4 linked regions of the Homo sapiens genome follow. The protein of the gene in region 1 purifies or fractionates together with the protein of each later gene. This does not show direct contact. Each region holds a gene or a part of one and is shown in the gene's direction. Other genes may lie near its edges. The genes, in order: SLC6A19, CLTRN, TM9SF3 and GALNT7.

Region 1 (4,080 bases):
TCCCAGGAGGGAGGTGGGTGGGCTGGGAGTTGGGAGGTAGGGGAAAGGGGAAGCTGGAGGAGCCCCAGGCCACCCTGCCTGCCCCACAGGACAGGAGGTGAGAGTCATGGGGTGAGGGGCCTTTGCCTCAAAGTGAACCCCACTGGCTCCCGGGATGCCTACTCACCCATGGGGCTCTCTCCCCAGGAGGAATTTCCCAAATCCCAGAAGATCTCCTACCCGAACTGGGTGTATGTGGTGGTGGTGATTGTGGCTGGAGTGCCCTCCCTCACCATCCCTGGCTATGCCATCTACAAGCTCATCAGGAACCACTGCCAGAAGCCAGGGGACCATCAGGGGCTGGTGAGCACACTGTCCACAGCCTCCATGAACGGGGACCTGAAGTACTGAGAAGGCCCATCCCACGGCGTGCCATACACTGGTGTCAGGGAAGGAGGAACCAGCAAGACCTGTGGGGTGGGGGCCGGGCTGCACCTGCATGTGTGTAAGCGTGAGTGTATGCTCGTGTGTGAGTGTGTGTATTGTACACGCATGTGCCATGTGTGCAGATATGTATCGTGTGTGCATGTACATGCATGGGCACTGTGTGAGTGTGCACGTGTATGCACACATATACATGTGTGTGGGTGTGTGTATTGTATGTGCATGTGCCATGTGTGCAGATGTGTCATGTTGTGTGTGTGCATGTACATGTATGGACATTGTGTGAGTGTGCAAGTGTGCATGCATATACATGTGTGCGATATTTGCTGCCCGTGTGTGTGCATGTATATATAGACATACATGCCTATGTTGTGTGTGGTGTGCATATGTGTGAACACACACGTGTATACATGCATGCACATGTGCTCGTACAATGGGTGTCCACATGCACGTGTATATGTATATCTGTGAGTGTATATACATGCATGCAATTGTGTGTATGTGTGTTCTGTGTGTGCGTTTGCAAGTATATATGCACATGTGTATATGTACATGTATGCCTGTGTGACGTGTGTATATGTGAGCATGTGTACGTGTGTGTATACGTGTGTTGTGTATATGTGTGTGTCTGTACCTGTTTGTGTATATGTGTGTGATGTGTGCTCGTGTGTGTGCATATTCAGGCAGGTGTGCATTTGTGCATGCCAGTGTGTATGTATGTGCGCATATGGACACGCATGGACACGCATATGGACACATATGGACACACATATGGACACGTGTGGATATGTGTGCGTACACGTCGCTGGGACACATGCCTGCCACTCGGGGCCCAGCTGCCCTCTGTGTTTGTCCTTGCCACAGTCACGGGGTGCATGTGCAGAGGGGAGCAGACCACTGGGGACGTGCTGTGCCCTGCACGTGCCCGGGGGAAGCGGAAGCTGCAGCTGGGGTGGGGGCAGCACCTCTATGCTTCATCTCTGTGGGTGGCAGGAGACAAAAGCACAGGGTACTATCTTGGCTCCTGGGAGCGACTCTTGCTACCCACCCCCACCCATCCCCTTCCCCTTGGTGTTGACCTTTGACCTGGGGGTTCCCAGAGCCCTGTAGCCCTCGACCCGGAGCAGCCTCTCGGAAGCCGGAGTGGGCAGTTGCTGGCGATTCTGAGAAAACTTGGCCGCATCCACCGGGGCCCTGCCTCCAGTCGGCCGCTGCCGAGTCTCTGCGTTCTGGCCGCTTCCCGGCTTAATGAATGCCAGCCATTTAATCATTGCTCCTGCCACCACAAATAGATGAGCAGTTAAATAAAACTCAACTTGGCATAATTCAAGGCAAATACCACTCTGTGCATTTTCTTAAGAGGACATGAGCTGTGTGAATTTTTAGCCAGCCTTTGGAAAAGATGGGTTACAGGGTAACTCAACCCTGGCTGCCATCCTTGGGCACTGTGTGTGTCCAGGGCACCTTGGAGGACCGTGCAGCCCCCAGAAGCTTCCAGCTCCCGCACCACTCAGTGAAGCCCAGCCTGGCGCCTGCCCTGCCCCCGTCACGGGATGGGCCCCCATTGGGGTTCAACATTCCATCGCAGCCAAAGGCAGTCGGCACTTGGGACATCTGCTTCCACGGACAGGTCACCTCCGCTTTGCACGGAAGAATCTGGATGCTTACATTAAACTGGTGTTCTGAGAGTTCCTACGGACAGGTCACCTCCGCTTTGCATGGAAGAATCTGGATGCTTACATTAAACTGGTGTTCTGAGAGTTCCTACGGACAGGTCACCTCTGCTTTCCATAGAAGAATCTGGACGCTTACATTAAACTGATGTTCTGAGAATTCCTACAGGCAGGACTGAAAGCCTGGTGTGTGCCAGTATGATGTTCCACCCACAGAAACCTGGTCACAATCGTCCCTTCCAGCACCCCATCCAGCAGTGACTGCACACACTGAGTCCCCTACCAGCCCCTTTCACCCTGCTGACTGTCACTGGGCCCTGGGATGCGCAAGACTCCACAGCAGCAGAGGTGGGGGGACATATCACAGCCTCTGCCCCCGGCTGTGATGCCACCGAGGGGCTCGCCTGCTGATGGCTTCAACAGGGTCTCACCTCATCTTTTCCTGCTCTTTGGCCCTGGATCGAGAAAATTTCCATCAGTGCCCCATTAATATGCTGCCCTGTGGCATCTGCCCAGGAGGCCCTGCCAGGCGTGCACAGGTGTGCATTGGTGTACCCTGGCATGCACAGGTGTGCACTGATGTGCCCTGGCATCCATTGGTGTACCCTGGTGTGCCTGCCATAGGACCCTGGGCGGGAGCTCCCATCTCATCTACATCTCCTGATTCATGCGTTGTTTCATAGGTTTCAATGTCTCTGTAAATGTGGTAGAAATGCAGGCTTTATGGGCATAAAGTGTACATTTCTAAATAAATCCCTTCTATTGAGTATGCTCACCCTAGAAGTTACTGTTGTCCAGACGTAGAGGGATGAGTGAGCCAGTGACCTCAGACGGGATGGTGGGGACGGCAGGTCCAGCTCCTGCCTCCTCCTGGGGGGTCTGGCTTTGGGGGCTTGCTCCGAAGAGGCCATGGCCCAGGCCTGTGGCCTCACAATGGGGACCAACCAGCTCTTCTCATCTTCTTCCCTCACACTTCCTCTCACTCAAATAAGAACCTTCCAAAAATGTGTCCACCTGGGCCCCTGCCCTGGGACTCATGGATTTGGAGTTGTGGCCACACGGTTGAGGGGTGCAGTGTCCAGTGGAATGGGGCAATTGCGGGCCTGGGGGCCCTTGGCCTGTCCGTGGCGGGAGCATCTGCAAGGAGGAGCCCCAGAGTCCAGGGAGCACTGTGGGGAGCTCCTTAGAGCTGAACTCACCCGGCGTCAACTCATCAACCCTCCACCCATGGACAGGGGTGCCCCCAGCACAGGAGAGGACTCAGCCCTCTGCCCCCACGCACGGTGGGTGCCTGTCACCCTGTCCTGCCCAGCGGCCCGAGGGCAGCAGTGGGTGTGAGGGCAGCCCCCGGCCTCCCAAGAGCAGCTGAGAGGATCCCTGCGGGAATCCGGGCTTCGGGTGCATGCGATCTGATCTGAGTTGTTTCTGACAGTGACAGAGTGACAATCTATAAGTATCTCAAGATCAAATGGTTAAATAAAACATAAGAAATTTAAAACGATTAAAATATGCCTCAGTCTTGGGAATCCTGGTGTCTGCAACAAAAAAACTTGAGGCTGTCCTTGCAAACGGTCCTCATGGTGCTGGGGGTGGTGCCAGGCCCGGCGTTTGCCTGGAACACAGAGCATGCGAGAAGGAGCAGAGGACGTGGGTGCCAGGGAAGGACCCTGGCGTCAGAGCCAGGGCCTGGACCTGAGTTACCCATTAACGGCACTCCACTGGTTTTCCTTTAAAGAAATGAATAAATACAACTGCAGTGGGGCTGCTTGTGGTTTCCAAACGTCGGCAGAGGCTGGAGACGGCTCTCTAGTGCTGGGTGTGGAGTGAGGCACCACCCTTGCCCTGAAGCCTGGGGCACTCAGTCACCATGGCTCATGCCCCAGAACCGGACCCGGCCGCCTGCGACCTCGGGGATGAGAGGCCCAAGTGGGACAACAAGGCCCAGTACCTCCTGAGCTGCACTGGGTTTGCCGTGGGACTGGGG
Region 2 (5,800 bases), on another chromosome or scaffold:
GAGTCACATTTCCAATTTGCAGTTGAAAAGTCTGTAACTGCAAAACAAAGAGTTCAAAGACTGCTGGTGAATTGATTATAGTGTTTAAGTTGGAGGTTTGTTCAAGGCGATGTAAAAGAAACTTGTTTTTGAGAACTTTTTCTTCAAAAGTACACACAGAAGGTGCCTTTTGTCTTGGCCCTGATGCTGGGGTGGAAGAGAGACAGTAGATGCAGACAGAGCAAGTATTGAATCATGAGGGGGCAGCAGATCCTCTCTGGATCTGAGAGGTGGAAGACTGAATGGGCAGGGCACTAAAAAGAGTTGAATGAGAAAATACCAAAGGTTTCTGTGGTTCAGAGAGGGCCAAGCATTGGGGAAACGGGGGCTGTCACCAACCGGTGATGGAGAATGAGATCCCTAATGCTCTCCACTGACTATTATTATTTTTTGGCAGATTCCCTGTTATTCCCTATAAGGAATGATCCCCAAGTATATGATTTTGAAACAATGGGAATTTCCTATATAATTTTCTTCTTACTGAGCTCATTCTTCATAATGGTAGAAATGACTTTTTAAACATAGCTAAGATGTCTCTTAAGATAGTAGTAGCATCAGAGTGAACGGTTTAATGCCATTTGGTATGATATTCTTCTCATGTATTTTTTCTTTCCACTGTCTGCAGAATTTCCCATGTCCTACTTTGCAATGTAACCCAGAGGGTATCATTCTGGTTTGTGGTTACAGACCCTTCAAAAAATCACACCCTTCCTGCTGTTGAGGTGCAATCAGCCATAAGGTAATCACCCTTAAATATGCCTTCTATTAGTCAATCAACTTGCTGATTAATTCAACTGTTTTTAAAAATAGATATTGAAGAGTTTTATCTGTTTCATACATGAATTATTTATTAAAATGACAAAGATTTCATTTTGTTAGTTTCTGTTAGAGATGAGTATAGATCAGTAGTTCTCATCCAGGGGCAATTTTACCTTCAAGGAGACATTTGGCAATATCTGGAGACATTTCGCAATGTCTGGAGACATTTTTATTGTCACAGCTGGAGGGGGTGGTGGTACCACCAGCATTGAGTAAGCAGAAGTTAGGGACCCAATAGCTTACCTTTTTCAGTCAATATATAGTCTTTACTTTAAAAAGATAATTTTTTTTAAAAAAAGGTAAAATCATGACTCTCATGCAAACTAATCATTATTACTATCAAAAATTTTATCTCATTAGTTAATGAGGGCACTAGTAAGATGTTAAATTCTTTTTCAAGGAGACTTCAAGGAACCACCCATATATAGAAAGTGAGGAATGGCAAAATGCATTTACAGAAGGATGCATCAGTCTATTTTTCGGGCAGTAACCAATTATGTTCCACTAGACACAGTTCATTTGATTTTCTATGGACAAGAATCATTTACATTATGTTAGTTTTCAAGAACTTAGGGATTTGCAAAGTAGCTCAAAGACCGTAAGAGATGGAAATTGCCTAGAAAGGTGCTCTCAGCAGGACAATCAGGAAAAAGTCCAGTACTCTGTTTTGCCCATTTCAAGTATTTTACAATTTTTCCCGACTTCCCGACAGTTGTACTCCTCCCCTCCTTATGATCGTAAGAAACTCAAAAGTGAAACGAATTCGAGACTTTCAAGAATTAGGAGGATGCAACTTGTATTTCTTTCAATTACTGTGCCTTTGGTATGTGTCAAAACTTCAAATACCACATGTGATTGATGTTGGGCAAAGATATACTCAAAAAATGAGCTCAGGAAATAAACTAGAACAAAGCAAAGTAGCTCTCCCCACACAAGATTTACAAGTTACTGAAATACATATTATTCTTTTTACCAAGGATAAATACCTACTGGAATAACTCATTAGCTCTCTGTAAAATGTTAACACTTAAGATAATGAGTATATAATCAAATGTCAAAGGTTTTTGTGAACATCATCTATTTCTTTTGCTGAAGCAAAGGCACTGAGGATTTATACTGATTGGAAATGGTTGAATCTGCCCTAACAAGAAAGTTTGAACTAAATTGCTTCTTCACTGTGGCCACTAAGAATACTGTTAAGACTCTCACCACTTAGGGAGTAAGAATTATAAATATCATATTTCATGTGAAAAAAGATTTTATTCATGTCTTGTGATCTGTGAGGGCTACAGGGAAAATGAAGGCACTGGGTTAAACCAGTCCTTCAGTTGATAGGAGGAGGAAGAGTGAGTGCTTAGGGTGAAGGTCTGGGAAGTATTAATACATGAATATGTTCACAACAAAATGTCTTTTTCAAGGGTCCTAGCAGGAGAATCTATTTAGGAAGTGGGGATAGCCAATAGAATGAGAATTTATGTCAGGGAATTAGTAGGGCACATCAGGATTGGATGAAAATAAAGGAAACTATACAACAAAGGAAGGATAGAGTGAAAAAAAGGAGATGGTGTTTAGAGAGCAAATAATAGGAATTTCAAGGCTGAAGAATCTAAGTGATTGGGCAAAATAATACTAGTTCCACCTAATATTTGCATACCACTTTTTGGTTCACAAGGAATGTTCTTATGCATCTGTGGCATTTAATAATGACACCAACAGTTTTTTTTTGTTTTCTTTTTAAGAGGCAGAGTCTGGCTTTGTTGCCCAGGCTATAGTACAGTAGCATGATAATAGCTCATTGCAGCCTTGAACTCCTGGGGTTCAAGTGATCCTCTTGTCTCAGCCTCCTGAGTAGCTGGGACTACAGGGATGTGCCACTATGCCTGGCTAATTTAAATTTTTTTTTTTTTTTGTAGAGACAGGGTCTTACTATGTTGCCCAGGCTGCCCTTGAACTGGCCTCAGGCGATCCTCCTGCCTCAGACTCCCAAAGTGCTGGGATTACAGGCATGAGCCATTGCACCCAGCCAACACCAATAATTTTTCAGTAATTACTATTATCTCTCCTTTATAAATGAAGAAACTGAGGCTCAGGGAGATTAATTGATTTGTTAAGGCCACCATGCTAGAAAGAGAAAGTGAGGACTTGAACCTAGGCATCCTGCCACCATATCCAGTGATTTTTCCTGTTTACCAGAGTACACAAAGAACTGAAACAGACATCTTAGAATTGGTTGGTCATTCCTTTACACAAAGTGCTTAGGGTGAAGGTCCAGGAAGCACGTGAATTTGTTCACAAAATGTCTATTTCAAAGGTCCTAGCAGGATAAACTATTTAGGAAGTGGGGATAGCCAACAGAATGAGAATTACAAAATTCTCATTTCAAGTAAAATAATTGAAATGGGCAAAAAAGAGTACTGGACTTTTTACCAATACAGAGTATACATAGTATGAGGTAAAGGAGTGACCAACTAATTCCAAGATGTCTGTTTTAGTTCTTTTGTGAGGGCGTGGCCTAATTCAATACCACTCTTGGCTGAAAGACATACATGATGCTTGATGCCAATTGGTGATTCCAGTGGTGGAGCAGATTTAATATGTACCTGAGCTAGAACTTCCAGTCAGTCTGTGAGATGATAGAATACATTCCAAGCCTAGAGTGAGCAAGTAACAAAGGGTTAACCAACTAGGAAGATAGAATGAGAATGCAGAGCAACTTCTCATTTTTCTCTGAGTTATATCTTAGCAGTGGGTTTCATTATTTTGTGGAAAAGTTTGTGCTCTCAGATGTTCAATATTAGGTTATGACAAAATAAAATATTCCATTGTTGGATAAAAATCCCTTGTTGTAGATTATCTGGCTAGAGTTCACTTTCACATCCATGAATAATCATGCCACAGCATAGTTATTTATTTACTAAAGGGGGTCTTTCCTGATAGCCTGGTGCTGGCCTGCAGAGATTCTCAAGCCATACTATCAGGCTGTAGACTTGGACTGTCCGGTACCGTAGCCACCAGCCAAATGTGGTTATTAAGCACCTGAAATGTGGCTAGTTCAAAGTCAGGTGTGCTCACAGTGTAAAACATAAGCCAAATTTCAAAGACATTGTACAAAATAAAATGTGGAGCCCCAGCCTGGGCAATATAGCAAGACCCTGTTTACACACACACACACACACACACACACACACACACACACACAGCCAGGTGTGGTGGCACACACCTGTGGTCCTAGCTACTTGGGAGGTTGATGCAGGAGGATTGCTTGAGCCCAGGAGTTTGAGGCTGCAATGAACCATGATCGTTCCTGTCTCAAAAAACAAACAAACAAACAAACATGCAAAGTCAACTTGATACTGTTTACATGTTGAAATTACATTTTCTTGGATATATTGGACAAAAAATACATTATTAAAATTAGTTTCATCTGTTTATTTTAGTGCAGCTACTAGAAAATTTTAAGTCACACGAAGCTCACATTATATTTCTGTTTTCCAGGGCTGCTCTAGAGGTAGACAAAGGCAGCTTGCATAATATGAATTCAGTAAAGGTCATAAAATATCTCCAAGGACTCTCCAGTTTACAGTTAGAAATTCACTTATTTGGTTTCAATTAAATAAGTCTTTGCTACCAACCTCTCCTTAACTGCCACCACCACTAAAAATGCAGATATTTCCTAGGAAAAGTAACATTTTTCTAAGCTTTTGAACTCCTAAATCATTAATGTCTTTAGTCCTATGGAACTACTTGCAATTTGCTGAACAAGTCTTACTTTACCTTGTTTCCATTCCTGTGCTCACCACATACTTTGGTCTAAAAACTCCTACTTGTCCCTCAAAACAGAGCTCAAAAATGGCCTCCACAGCAAAGCAGCTCTGACTTCTCACAATGGTGTACTTGGCCCTTCCCTCTGCTCACACTGTGCCCATATTTGCCTCTTTCACAGAACATTTTGTACCACACTGTGGTTGTGGATCTACTGATCTGTCACCCTTCTAGACCGTAAGCTCCTTGGTACTTTAATTTCACGTTGTATCTCCAGCATCTAGCACAGTATTTGATATTTAATAAGTTTTTGGCAAATGTTTGTTGAATTAATGAAAAAAATATCAAGATCAAGTTGGTGAATTTGAAGCCACTCCTGGTTCATGTTTTCATTTTTGCTTCTGGTTTTCTTTACTTCTCCTATTCATCACCCATATTTTACATGTAATTTTACTTTTGGGGGCTGTGATATTTATGTAAGCCACCTTAAATAGAGCTTTGTCATTCTAATCTAGATGCTACTCACACAGGACAGGTGAAACCCAAATTGAGGCTTAGCCCATGAGGATTCTGGGCTTTGCCCAGGAAAAAAATTCAAGAGAGAGCCAGAAGTAGAAGAAAACAACTTTACTGAAGAGGCAGTATTATAGCTCCTGTGATGTTACTGCTCTGTGACTGCTCCTGCAGAGCAGGACTACCCTGTAGGCAGAGACTAGCAGCTCAGGGCAGTTTTGCAGTCATATTTATACCCACTTTTAATTACATGTAGATTAAGGAGCAGTTTATGCAGAAATTTCTAGGGAAGGGTAATAACTTTGGGGTCATCACATCATTGCTATGGAAAGGGGTGGTAACTCCCAGGTGTTGCCATGGCAATGGTAAACTGACATGGCACACTGGTGGGCATGTCTGATGGAAAGCTGCTTCCCCGCCACCCCCTAGCTCTGTTTTAGTTAGTCCTCAGTTTGGTCCAGGGTTAGAGCCCTGCCTCCAGAGACGAGTCCCTCCGTCTACCTTACTACCTCTCAGGAAATAAAACATGGTGGACAGAGCTCAAAGCTCAGGACTTCTGGACATTCACAACAATGGGGGCAGCAGTGGATACATGGGTATCCCTCTGGCAGCTAGTGTTGTAACTTAAGAGAAACTATGGCATGATTGCCCTCAGCAAACTTTTTAG
Region 3 (5,800 bases), on another chromosome or scaffold:
CTACCTAGGCTAAAATTCCCTATTTCTCTGTGGCCCAGTGTACTTCTGGTAATCTTGAGACTTCTAATGTTGGACAGACTGGATGCCTACTAGAATCGTTTACTCAGCCTCTGCCTCATAAATAATTTGTATTATATCACGGAGTGATTTCAGAAATGTTTTGTTTGATTTACTTTGGCAAATGGAAACCTTTTGTCTTTGTCTCTGTTGGGAGTATAGGAACTCTTAAAACTTACTGAAAACTTATAAAGAGTATAAGCTGTTTACTATAAGTGAATTTGTGAGTTATCTAATGTAGATTGTTAAATGCCGTAATTCGTTGTCCTATTTTCAGCTCTACTCAATGATAGACTGAAAGTTTATTTAGGTACAAAGCTATTTTTGAGAGAGAGTAGTTATCTCAAGAGACTATTCAAAATTACATTTCTAATTTATTTGTATTAGAATTCTGATGTGTGTTTTAATAATTTAAAGGTTTTGAAATTATGATTTCTGGAACATTATTTTGAAGTAAACACATATATTTTTCCCCCTTTGTATGAAAATGAAGGATAGCATTTGGGTGCTTGTTCTGAACCCTCAGTCCTTTGCTCATCTATGTAAATTGTGATTTCTTATTCAGATTTCACATGACCACGTCAGCATATTATCTTCTAAAGCGTTTCTCCTGATAATAATTAATTCATTACCTCTGTCAAGGAGGAAAACTTTGGTACCCCCCCAACACATAAACAGTATTTAAATAAGAGGGGCCCAACATTGGTGACTTCTTGAGAATAAAGGTCATTCCTTTTGAGATTAGAGTGCAAATAGCTTCTTAGAAGGTTTTTTTTCTTTCAGGCAGATTAAAGGCTCACATAGAAAAGTTATTCAGTGTTCAGGACTGTCTTTAGTTGCTTTGTACACCTGGCACTGTTTTCATATTTCCTTGATTTAGTTTTTTGCTCTTTAATGAATGAAGCTGACTAGGGATTAGCAAAAATACTAACCTTTTAAACTTGATGCTGATTGATTTGGACAAATTACTTAACATCTCTGTTCTTTAGTTTTGTTTTTGTTTTTAGTCTGTAAAATGGGGAAGTAATAGGACCTATTTTATAGAATTTTGAGATGATTATTTAAGTGTTCATATAAAGACCTTAGAACTATACCTAGCTCATAGTATGTATTTATTGTTAGCTACTGATGTTATTATTACAAAAATGGTGAGATCATGTCATGTTAGGGTTTGGTGAGTTAAGGCTTTACTTGAGGATTTGAAAAAGGAGGATTTGAGCATTTCGGAAGGATTATTAGAGTTTGGCTAAGTGGAGAAAAGGAGGGCATTCTAAATTTGGTGGAATGACGAAAGAAGATGAAGTGGGGCCAGGCGCAGTGGCTCACGCCTGTAATCCCAGCACTTTGGGAGGCCGAGGCGGGTGGATCACGAGGTCAGGAGATCGAGACCGTCCTGGCTAACATGGTGAAACCCCGTCTCTACTAAAAAATACAAAAAATTAGCCGGGTGTGGTGGTGGGCGCCTGTAGTCCTAGTTACTCAGGAGGCTGAGGCGGGAGAATGGCGTGAACCTGGGAGGCGGAGCTTTCAGTGAGCCGAGATTGCACCACTGCACTGCAGCCTGGGCGACAGAGCAAGACTCCGTCTCACACACACACACACACACAAAGATGAAGCAGAAAAGGGGAGGAAGACAATATCATAAACCGTTTTGGCCAGCGTGGATGACGTAAGTGTAGCAGTGAGATTCTTCTGAGAGCTGGAAAATAAGTAGGTGAAGAATGCCGGTAGCCTGAATTGGCCTCCTCTCACTTGGCCGTTTCCCAGGGAAGCCTCAGATGAAAGGGATTATTATCGTGCTTAGGGATCCCCTGATACACTGCTGTGCTTCTGTGACTCCACCCCACCTTCTTCTGGGCCTAGCACTCTCTTCCCACAGACTGTGGAGCTCAGGGGCTTTATCAAAGCTTTAGGGAAAGGAAAGATTTTTGTTTGTTTTGTTTTCTCCTTCAGAAGTTGTGTGAAGTCTTTTGGTATTTTTTAATTTCAAAATATTTTAAAACATTTTCTTTTGAGAGAGAACTCTTGATCTTGTCTTGGAAGCACTTATTCTCAGGGACAATCAAGGTCTGCAATGAAAAGTAAACATTTTAAGTTAATTGTATTAAACCACAGTCTGCATAGTAAGGAGCAAAACAAAAGAAAAAAGCATTATTTTTGCCTTGCTATTCACCCTAAACTCTCAGTATGTGTATTTCTAATTACTGTTTCAGTCCTCTTCCCAGAAAGAATCTTAGACTACAAAATGATATAAATTTTATTACAGTACGGGCATCACATCACAACTCTACCACTCTGTTAAGGATTCCTGAATGTTTAAAATGAGTAACTTCGGAATATGTGGTTTAACATCGACTGGGACCCTTAAATTATTTTAGTCCTTATGTTTTAATTTGTATAAAATAAATGGATGCCCTATTTTTAAAGGTATTTATTTTCAAAAATGTTGTCTATTTTTAAAGGAAAAGTATTGGAATTTATAGAAAAAGTATTTTTGTGCTTATTTTCACAAGTTACATTTATAACATTTCTGCAGACTCAGCAGGGTTAATGGCAAGGTGCTCTTTAATAGGTCGTCTCATTCAACATTCTGCTCTTAAATAGATGAATTATGTTACCTCCCCTTATTTTTCTGAAAAGGTACTCTTACAGTCAGGGTACATAGCAGTCATTTCACATACTTCAAACTTCTTTTACCAAGTTGCCAATGAACTTTACATTTCAGCATTTCTTCAGTGTTTTCCCATCATATTTATTAAATATCTATTTGCCTTGGTGAATAGGTTCTTCTTGTGAGACTGAGTCTCGCCCTGTTACCCAGACTGGAGTGCAGTGGCGCAATCTCAGGCTCACTGCAACCTCCACCTCCCAGGTTCAAGTGATTCTCTTGCCTCAGCCTCCCAAGTAGCTGGGATTACAAGGTGTGTGCCACGACACCCTGCTAATATTTGTATTTTAAGTAGAGACAGGGTTTCACCATGTTGGCCAGGCTGATTTCAAACTCCTAACCTTAAGTGATCCGCCTGCTTTGGCGTCCCAAGGTCTTGGGATTACAGGTGTGAGTCACCGTACCCGGCCATGAACAAGTTTTAATTCTAATACCAACTCTCATCAGTTGGTAATGATTGGTTTAGAGCACTGTTTTGAGAACTCTGAGGCAATATCTATGTTCAGCAGAAAGGAGTAACTTGGTTGATTAGTATTGTGTGGCCCATGAGCATTGGATGGAAGAGTGGGGGCATACATATATTTGTCAGTCTCCCCAAATAAAAAGAATAGTAATGAATGGGGATATACTGCTACATTAACATTTAGACCTTTGATTCATTACTTCCTATGTGAAGATTATCTACAGTTGTTTTTCTGAACTCCCTTGAAACAGCTTATGATTTTCCAAATTGTTATTCGTCCTGACCTTCTCTGCCAAAGTGAATTTAATCATTCCTTTATTGTTGCTACAATAGCCCTTTATTACCTTAATTATAATACTTATTTTTTCTTTGTTAATCATTTACTTGTCTGATTCCACTGTGGATTATGAACTTCTTAAGGAAACGACAGTATTTTACTTACTTTTATATTCTTAATACCTAACGCGATACTTGGTACCTGTCACATGTGTTCAAAAGGTGAGATCATTTGTTATTTCCTTAATGACCTGGCTGTTGTCTTATATGAACAGTGAGGCATTTATGTTTGAAAATGAAATGACTGGGTCTAAGTCTTAGGGTGATAATCGTGTGAATCAAAAGAAAAAGGCAGATGTTTTTGGTAAGAACATACAAGTTAATGTTTTTGGGTTCCCTAGAGTGCAGAGAGATTTGGGGTTTGAGTCTCCATGGCTGAGAGAATGGTAGTACCATTAGAAAAATGAAGCTGGGGGAAGTGGATTTGGGTAGATGAGTTTGGTTTTGGAGATGTTAGGTTTTGATTGAAAATATTTATTTATTAACTAGTTTTAGATGGAGGACTGGAGATAAGGATTTCATAGTGGGCCAGTTGGATCACTTCTTCTATTATGTGCCCCATAGCAACCTACCTTATTATTATTGCTTGTTTAATGCCCATCCTTCCCCCAGTAGGACAGGGAACACATCTTGTTCAAAGCTGTATCCTCAGTTATAAACACAGTTGTTTCACATGCTAAGCACTTAGTAAATAATTGTTCAGTGAATTAATGTCTGCACTATTAGTTGATTTAAATGCATCCAATGTTGTCTTTAATTTATACTGCTACTTAGAATTATTAGTTTTAAAATTACCATGGTAATCAGTTTCCATAGAATCATTGGAACTTTAAACTTGTCGAGATCTTAGAAATCTTTGACAGGCCTCCCACTTGTACCTTGGAACTACTCAAAGTCATTACTGACCACACTTCAGATTTAGCCATGTATAATATTCACTGATATGTAGTTCCATAATTACTTATTCAAAGAAATATGCATATAGTGCATGTCTTTCAGGCTGCTAACAAGATAGAATGTTGGCTTGAATGGACTTGTGGAGGTTCTATAGCAGTCTTCTTCCTTGTCCTCTGTAGTACTTTGACCAGTGGCTGTGTGAAAGTCTCGCAAGGAGATGAAATTTTATTTATGCTTGCTGGCAACATTAGGTTTTTTTTTTTTTTTAATTGATTAACATGAGGTTCTGGATAAACTTGATTTTGTTTCCTCCTTCCTTGTCCATGTTAGCATGGTGAATCATGCTGGTTGCAGGTTTGCCACTATTTGATAGTGTAAATGTAAATAATAGACACACTCTTATGAGCTATTGGGCTTAGTTCAAACACTGTCTTCTATAAAACAAGTTTGGAAAAGGTGTATCTGCCTGAGACTACAATCAGAGGATATAATTTTAAAATTCACAAAGTTTCATTTTTAAGATGTGGACATTCATCATCAGATTAAGCTTCCAGTATTTATTTTATAGCTTCCTGAACAGAGATGATGCACTTTTGTTTAGAACACACAACAAATATTCCCTTAATTTGAATTAGTGTGTTTTTTTTTTTTAATTCTTGTTTGCTTTTCTTGTTTCAGTATCAAGATAAAGAGGAAGTTGTCTTATGGATGAATACTGTTGGGCCCTACCATAATCGTCAAGAAACATATAAGTACTTTTCACTTCCATTCTGTGTGGGGTCAAAAAAAAGTATCAGTCATTACCATGAAACTCTGGGAGAAGCACTTCAAGGGGTTGAATTGGAATTTAGTGGTCTGGATATTAAATTTAAAGGTAAGTAAACCTTAATAGTCCTTACAATGCAATTTGGATTGTAGACAAGGGTTTCATATTTTGGCACTATTGACACTGGTGTTGGATAATTCTTTGTTGTATGGAGCTGTTATGTACATGTTAGGATGTCTAGCAGAGTCCCTGGCCTGTACCCCCCAGATGCCAGTAGCACCTTCCAGTTGTGAAAACCAAAAAAGTCACCAGACATTGCTAATTGCTGTCAGTTGAGAACCACTACTTTAGACTCTAAAATGTGTTTTAGTCTGTAAATGAGGTGTATTGCATTTAGGAAAGTATATTAGTAATTAACAAAGATTTCCTTTGAATATTTATAAGATAATAAAATAGATAATTGTTAATAAAATTGTATTTCCTTAACATATTTCCTTCTGAAAAGTGTTGTCTAGTAAACCCCCTATTGATTAGACACATGTGGCCCGGGAAGACCTTCATGGATATTTAACAAAGTAATTTCTGGAGGTCTGAGGCTGTAATGGGATGCGTG
Region 4 (5,800 bases), on another chromosome or scaffold:
TATCTCCCAACCAGTCTGAGTGCTTCAGGACCTTGATCACTTGTGTCCAGGTGGACTGATGCAGGGACCCATATACAGTAGATACTCCAACAATGCTTTTCAAATGAATTAAAAATAATTAAAATCAGACAAAAGCACTTTGACAATCAGACATTGTCATTTCTTTGTTTATTCAAACTTGTCTTCAGACTCACTTCTGATTGCTCCCTGCAGCCCCGCTGTATGCCTCACAGGTACACTAAACCTGCCATGAACGTTCAAGTCTACATCCCTCTGCTTAATTATGTTCAGCAAATATTGGTTGAGGGCCTACTATGTGCCAGTCACTCTTCTAGACAGAAAACCAGAGAAGCAAAGTCGTTTTTCTCAGGGAACTGGCATGCTACCTGGGGAGAGAGACCAAAAAAGTCTGAGAAAACAAAAATGATAATGACAGATGGTGATAAATGATAATGACACATAATACTGTCAAGAGGACTTAAGGGCAGGGTAAGGAAAGCCTCTCTGAGGAGGTGACATTCGCTCTCAGATCTGAATGATAAAGAGTCAGCCAATCAGAGAGTGGAGATGAAGGGAAGCTGACCAACTGCGGAAGCATAGTTCATCTGGGAGTGGATTCCTTATGGGTTGGTGTGTGAAGGGATAAGGGCCAGAATGACATCGAGGTTGTTTTGAGTAGCTGATTAGGTGGCTGCTGAGATTGGGAAGATAGTAGGGGAGTGAATGGAGGGGGCAAGGCTTCTGTTGGTGTTCTGGGCATGTGAAGTACCTGCTAGGCGTCCAGGTAGAGCCATTAAGGCCTACTGATCATAGATTGTAGGTTGTATGATGCCAAAGTCCAGAAGAGAGGCCACTCTGGAGATGTGCATTTGGGGCCATCAGCAGGTAGGTCGTTTCATGGGACTGAATGAGGTCCCCGAGGGAGAAAACACAGATAGAGAAGAGAAGACTAGACCCATCCGTCAGAAACGCCAGCATTTAGAGTTCAGGAATAGAAGGAAAAACCAACAGAGGACACTCATGCTGCTCTCTCTGTACTTCTTGCTTTAATATACTTTTTCCCTATACTCTTATTTTACCTGTCCTATTACAGCAAATTATGTTTAACTCCAACTAGACCATAAGCCTTTCAACACACAGATCTCTCTCTGAGGGCCCAGACAAGTATATCCAACTGTATGCTTAACATCAGGACTTGAATGTGTAACAGGCATTTCAAACTCGACATAGCCTAAATTGAACTTCCTATCTCCTCCCCCCAACCCATCTTTGCTGATTTCTTGGTCAAAAACTTTGGAGTCTTCCATGAATCCTGTCTTTGTCTCGCACTTCATATCTAGTTCCAGAATCTGATCCCTTGTTGCCTGGTCTAAGCCACCATCATCTCTCACTGAGACTAACTTGTTGACTCTCCTACAGCCTATTTCAAATACAGCAGTCAGAGTGACTGTTTTAAAATAAAGGCAAATCATGTCCTTCTTCTGCTAGAAACCCTGCACCTTCACCTATGAGTGAAGACAAAGTCCTTTCTGGTAGTCTCCAAGATCCACAACATCTGTCCCCATTCCTCTCTGGCCTCACCTGCTACTGCTCTCCCCACTCCACTCCAGCCCCATGTCCTTACTGGTCCTCAGACTCCCTCCAGGCATGTGCCTGCCTGTGCTGTTCCCTCTGCCAGGAATGCTTCCTTGCAGATACACGCATGCATGGCCAGCTCTCACACCTCCTTCAAGTCTGCTGACCTACCACTTCTCAGTGAGGTCCACCTTGTTACTTCCCAACGCCCTAGCTCCCACCCTAACTTCCTCTTCTTTTCCTTTTTTTCACCACACTTATCACCTTTTGCCATAACAGACAAATTGTCTACTATGTTTTTTAACTTATATTCTGTCTTTTTTCCCTTACATTCCCAGAGTGAATGGAGGCAGGGGCCCACATTCACTGTGGCATGCCCATTACTGGGGTAGGTGTCTTTATTTTGTTCACTAGTGTTTCAGAGCCTACAACATGCCTGGCACACATCAGGTACTTAATATTTGATGATTGAATAAATACATGAATGAATAAATGGAATTTTCTGTCCTCCTTTTACTGTCTCACTCCCAAGTATATCTTCAGTTTAACCTCTTCCCATTCTGACATCTGCACTTTATACTTCATTTCTCGGCATTTCCTTAACATTCCAGGGTAAACCCCTACCTGTTTTAAAGGTGTCTCTTGGGGCAGTCTTTGGAGCTCCTCCAGGCAGGGTGAGCAGCTCTTCCTCTGTACATTCACACCTCTGTCCTGACTGGTCCACTACCCCTCTGTCTCTCTACAGGCGGTGAGGACCATGACTTGCACCTCTTCATATCCTCAAAACCTGTTATCATTATAGGTGCACAGTCCATATTTGCTGACTGAATGCAAGAATAAAACATTTTATCCAAATAGTATAGCGATTTATAATTCAGAGAAATAAATGGCTTTTCCAAAAATAGTTCTTTTCATACAAAATGTACATTCCAAAGATGGAAACCTGTGTTTGCTTTTCATCTACGTTTATAGAGAAAAGCCTCACTGCCTGGTCATGTGCCATGCATGGCCTATGCACCCTAGACCCCTACAGGCAGCTACCAAAAGTGCTGCATAGCCATTTGGGAGAGGTCCCTTACAAATCCAGTCTGTTCTAGATATCTAGGGCCAGGCCAGTGTTTATTACCACTGTGGTTAGGTTCTCTATTTGCTTCTCATTCACATGAATTACTGTGATTCTGAAATTGCAATTAATGGTAACTTTTTTTTTCTCTGTGGTATTTTACGGAAATGTATAGTCCTTTGCTCTTAGAGAAAGAACCCATTCCAGTGTTGACTTCAAGACCATAAGTTATTTCAAAACTATGTAAAGATTGACAATCCAGTAATAACCTGTCACTACACATACCCAGATTTTCCCTGTAAACTGTAATATTTAACATGAAATGTTAAATTCTGATGCCAGAGTTCATCAAAAACTAAACTGTTGCCTGCTTTTTGCGTCTTTATTCATTTTTTTAGATCAGAGGCTTCGAAACTGCTTACTGCATTGATAGCATGGGAAAAACAAATGGAGGCTTTGTTGAACTAGGACCCTGCCACAGGATGGGAGGGAATCAGGTAAACCACCTTACTTTTGTGTTTAAGTTGTTCCGTATTGAGGGCCATCAGGTTTATTGATCACAGAGTGATCTTTGTACTTTGGTTTTCGATTTGGTAATTTTGTTTGTTTTGATAAAGTAAAACATTCTGTAAAAAAATTGACAGTGTTAAAACATTCACTTAAATGATGGGAATAATAGCAGTATTGGTTTTCACATAAGCAGTCAGAATCTAGAATTAATGTCTAATATAAGGGATTAAAATATATTCCTGTGGGAGTATATATTTGTCACTACCGTAACTATGTAAGCCTAGCTCCCTAACAATTTTTTGCAAGTATTGCTCACTAATCCTCATCTTTTTGCAAATAGAGTGTTACTGCCAGTAATGTATATTTCACTAATATATATTCTCTTACTTATGTGGGTATGTTTTTGCTTTTTCATTTTTTCACATTGTTGGTACTTAATAAATTTGTGTTAGTGACCCATTTGGTATCTTAGAGACTAAAGAACTTAATGATTTCAGTGTTAATAAGGATCTTCACTAACATCAAAATAAATATAATTTGTCTGTGGACTTACAGTTCTAAACAAAATTATGGAAAAATAAGTTAGTCATTCAATTTAATTATAGGAGTTAAGTTTCTTTCTTTTCAAATGCACATCAGCAGGGAAGGTGCCTCTGTTACTTAATTCTCTCTTTTCCTTTTACAGCTTTTCAGAATCAATGAAGCAAATCAACTCATGCAGTATGACCAGTGTTTGACAAAGGGAGCTGATGGATCAAAAGTTATGATTACACACTGTAATCTAAATGAATTTAAGGAATGGCAGTACTTCAAGGTATTCTGCATTTTAACTTCTGAAATATTATATGCTTTTCATTTTCAGTAACATCTAGCATGTGGAATTTAGATAAATAAATCTTAAAACCTGCATTCAAATTCACTTGCATTTTCCTCTCATTTAGTCCCTTGCATAGGTTTTCCTGAGCACTGGATGACTCATTGTTCTATAATGAGGCATCACTTTTGTTCTCTCTTACAATATTGTCATGTAATGAGGCCACGATGATGTCTATAAAGAGCACTGCTAATTTTAGTAATACAAGAAAGTCAGTGTTCTGTGAGGCAGTCATCACCATTGCTCTCATCAAAATCTGATTTTTGAAATGTAAATGAATCATTCATTAAAGTAAAATATATTTAAATATATTTATACTATTAAAAATTTGGTTAATATTTGATATTGTCCAGCAGGTGGAGATAGAGACAAACAAATAAAACTTGAAATCTAGGCTTTCATAACGTCTTTATCATTGTTGTGTGCTAAATACAGTGGGATAAATGTAGCTAGTTGCTTACTTTAATGGTCAAATTTAGTTATTCACGTGACACTGCTGGGGTAGCTTTGTGTTTCAGCTGTGAGTATTTAAAGCTCTGTGGCAAGTTGAGGATTACAACATATTAATAGATTTATGTATAGTTTTCAAATTCTAGATTTGGCTAACATAAATCAATTTATTATTAAACAAAAAGTGGGGAAAGCTGCCTCACACTAAAAAAATCTGTCAACCCTCCATTTTATTTACTCACCCAGTATTTGTTATCATATCCCATCTGTCATGCAAGCAAGGACTTGTTTGCTATGTAATAATGATATGACCTAGCTTAACATTCCCTGTTACTGTCATTTACAGATAATTTCCAGGAAGTGATAAGCACGTATCAATTGATGATTTTGTTTCTTATAACAAGTTAGGAAGGAGAAGAATAGCATAAACCTTAAAGAGTGGAGCATTTATTTTCACAAAAAAAAAGGATATATAATAGCAATAAATAGTAGGGGTCAGTGAGAACAATATTAGCAAAATAGTAAAAGAGGGCTAACACACCAGAAACTACATCAAGAAGTAATTGAACAAAAAATGACACATAACATGTTTTAGGTATTTTAAAGACGCAGCACTGAATATACATTTGTGTGTTAGATATTACTGAACATTCACTTGGGGACCAATAATATGTTAGACTGTAGGGGAGTTCAAAAATATAGCTAAAGCACGCTATTATATAATGGCAGAGAAGAAAGAAATGCAAAAATAGAGATAAGCAAAATGCCATAGGACAGAAAAGAGTGATTCATGGGAGGAATTACTGCTGAGGAGTTTCATAGAGGAAGTGTCATTGCACAAGTCCTGAAGTGTAAAAAGGCTTTCCATGGAAAGTAAATAAGAAAGCCTGGATGAGCAAAGATGTGGCATGAAAACATGTAGAAAATTCAAAGAATTGTATTTCATTTGGTATCCCTCAATTGTGCTTTGGAGGAAAGAGCACCGAACTTCATTTTTTAAGTTTTGGAGAGGGATAGACCTTATTTGAGGAAGGTAGTGATGGAAAACAATGGCTACTTTTAGGAAAATAATTCTGGAAACGTGAGGTATGGACTGATGAAGCAACGAGATCAGCTTGAGCAGCAGTTCTCAAACTTTCTGTCCTCTGGATTCCCTTTACACTCTTAAAAATTTTTGAGCTCCCCCACCCCCAAATTGCTTTTGTTTATATAGGTTATCACTAGCAATATTTCCAGAACTGGAAAGTGTCTGAGAAATTTGTAAAGTTTTTATATATTAATTCATCTAAAAGTAATAATAATATACTTATTAAACATTAATGTAAATG

What was found.
Region 2: the proteins of SLC6A19 (region 1) and CLTRN purify together in Homo sapiens (affinity purification with mass spectrometry; one large-scale study listed by BioGRID and IntAct). This does not show direct contact.
Region 3: the proteins of SLC6A19 (region 1) and TM9SF3 purify together in Homo sapiens (affinity purification with mass spectrometry; one large-scale study listed by BioGRID and IntAct). This does not show direct contact.
Region 4: the proteins of SLC6A19 (region 1) and GALNT7 purify together in Homo sapiens (affinity purification with mass spectrometry; one large-scale study listed by BioGRID and IntAct). This does not show direct contact.

What each region holds. Positions count from the first base shown.
Region 1 is NC_000005.10:1,221,515-1,225,594, forward strand, and holds the end of SLC6A19 (sodium-dependent neutral amino acid transporter B(0)AT1), read left to right. Parts: intron 1-186; coding exon 187-390; 3' UTR 391-3,597; downstream 3,598-4,080. Other genes in the region: SLC6A18 (inactive sodium-dependent neutral amino acid transporter B(0)AT3), read left to right, coding at 3,964-4,080. UniProt on the Homo sapiens protein: Transporter that mediates resorption of neutral amino acids across the apical membrane of renal and intestinal epithelial cells. This uptake is sodium-dependent and chloride-independent.
Region 2 is NC_000023.11:15,639,894-15,645,693, reverse strand, and holds part of CLTRN (collectrin precursor), read left to right. Parts: intron 1-664; coding exon 665-778; intron 779-5,800. UniProt on the Homo sapiens protein: Plays an important role in amino acid transport by acting as binding partner of amino acid transporters SLC6A18 and SLC6A19, regulating their trafficking on the cell surface and their amino acid transporter activity.
Region 3 is NC_000010.11:96,576,129-96,581,928, reverse strand, and holds part of TM9SF3 (transmembrane 9 superfamily member 3 precursor), read left to right. Parts: intron 1-5,099; coding exon 5,100-5,295; intron 5,296-5,800.
Region 4 is NC_000004.12:173,314,598-173,320,397, forward strand, and holds part of GALNT7 (N-acetylgalactosaminyltransferase 7), read left to right. Parts: intron 1-3,036; coding exon 3,037-3,135; intron 3,136-3,833; coding exon 3,834-3,962; intron 3,963-5,800. UniProt on the Homo sapiens protein: Glycopeptide transferase involved in O-linked oligosaccharide biosynthesis, which catalyzes the transfer of an N-acetyl-D-galactosamine residue to an already glycosylated peptide.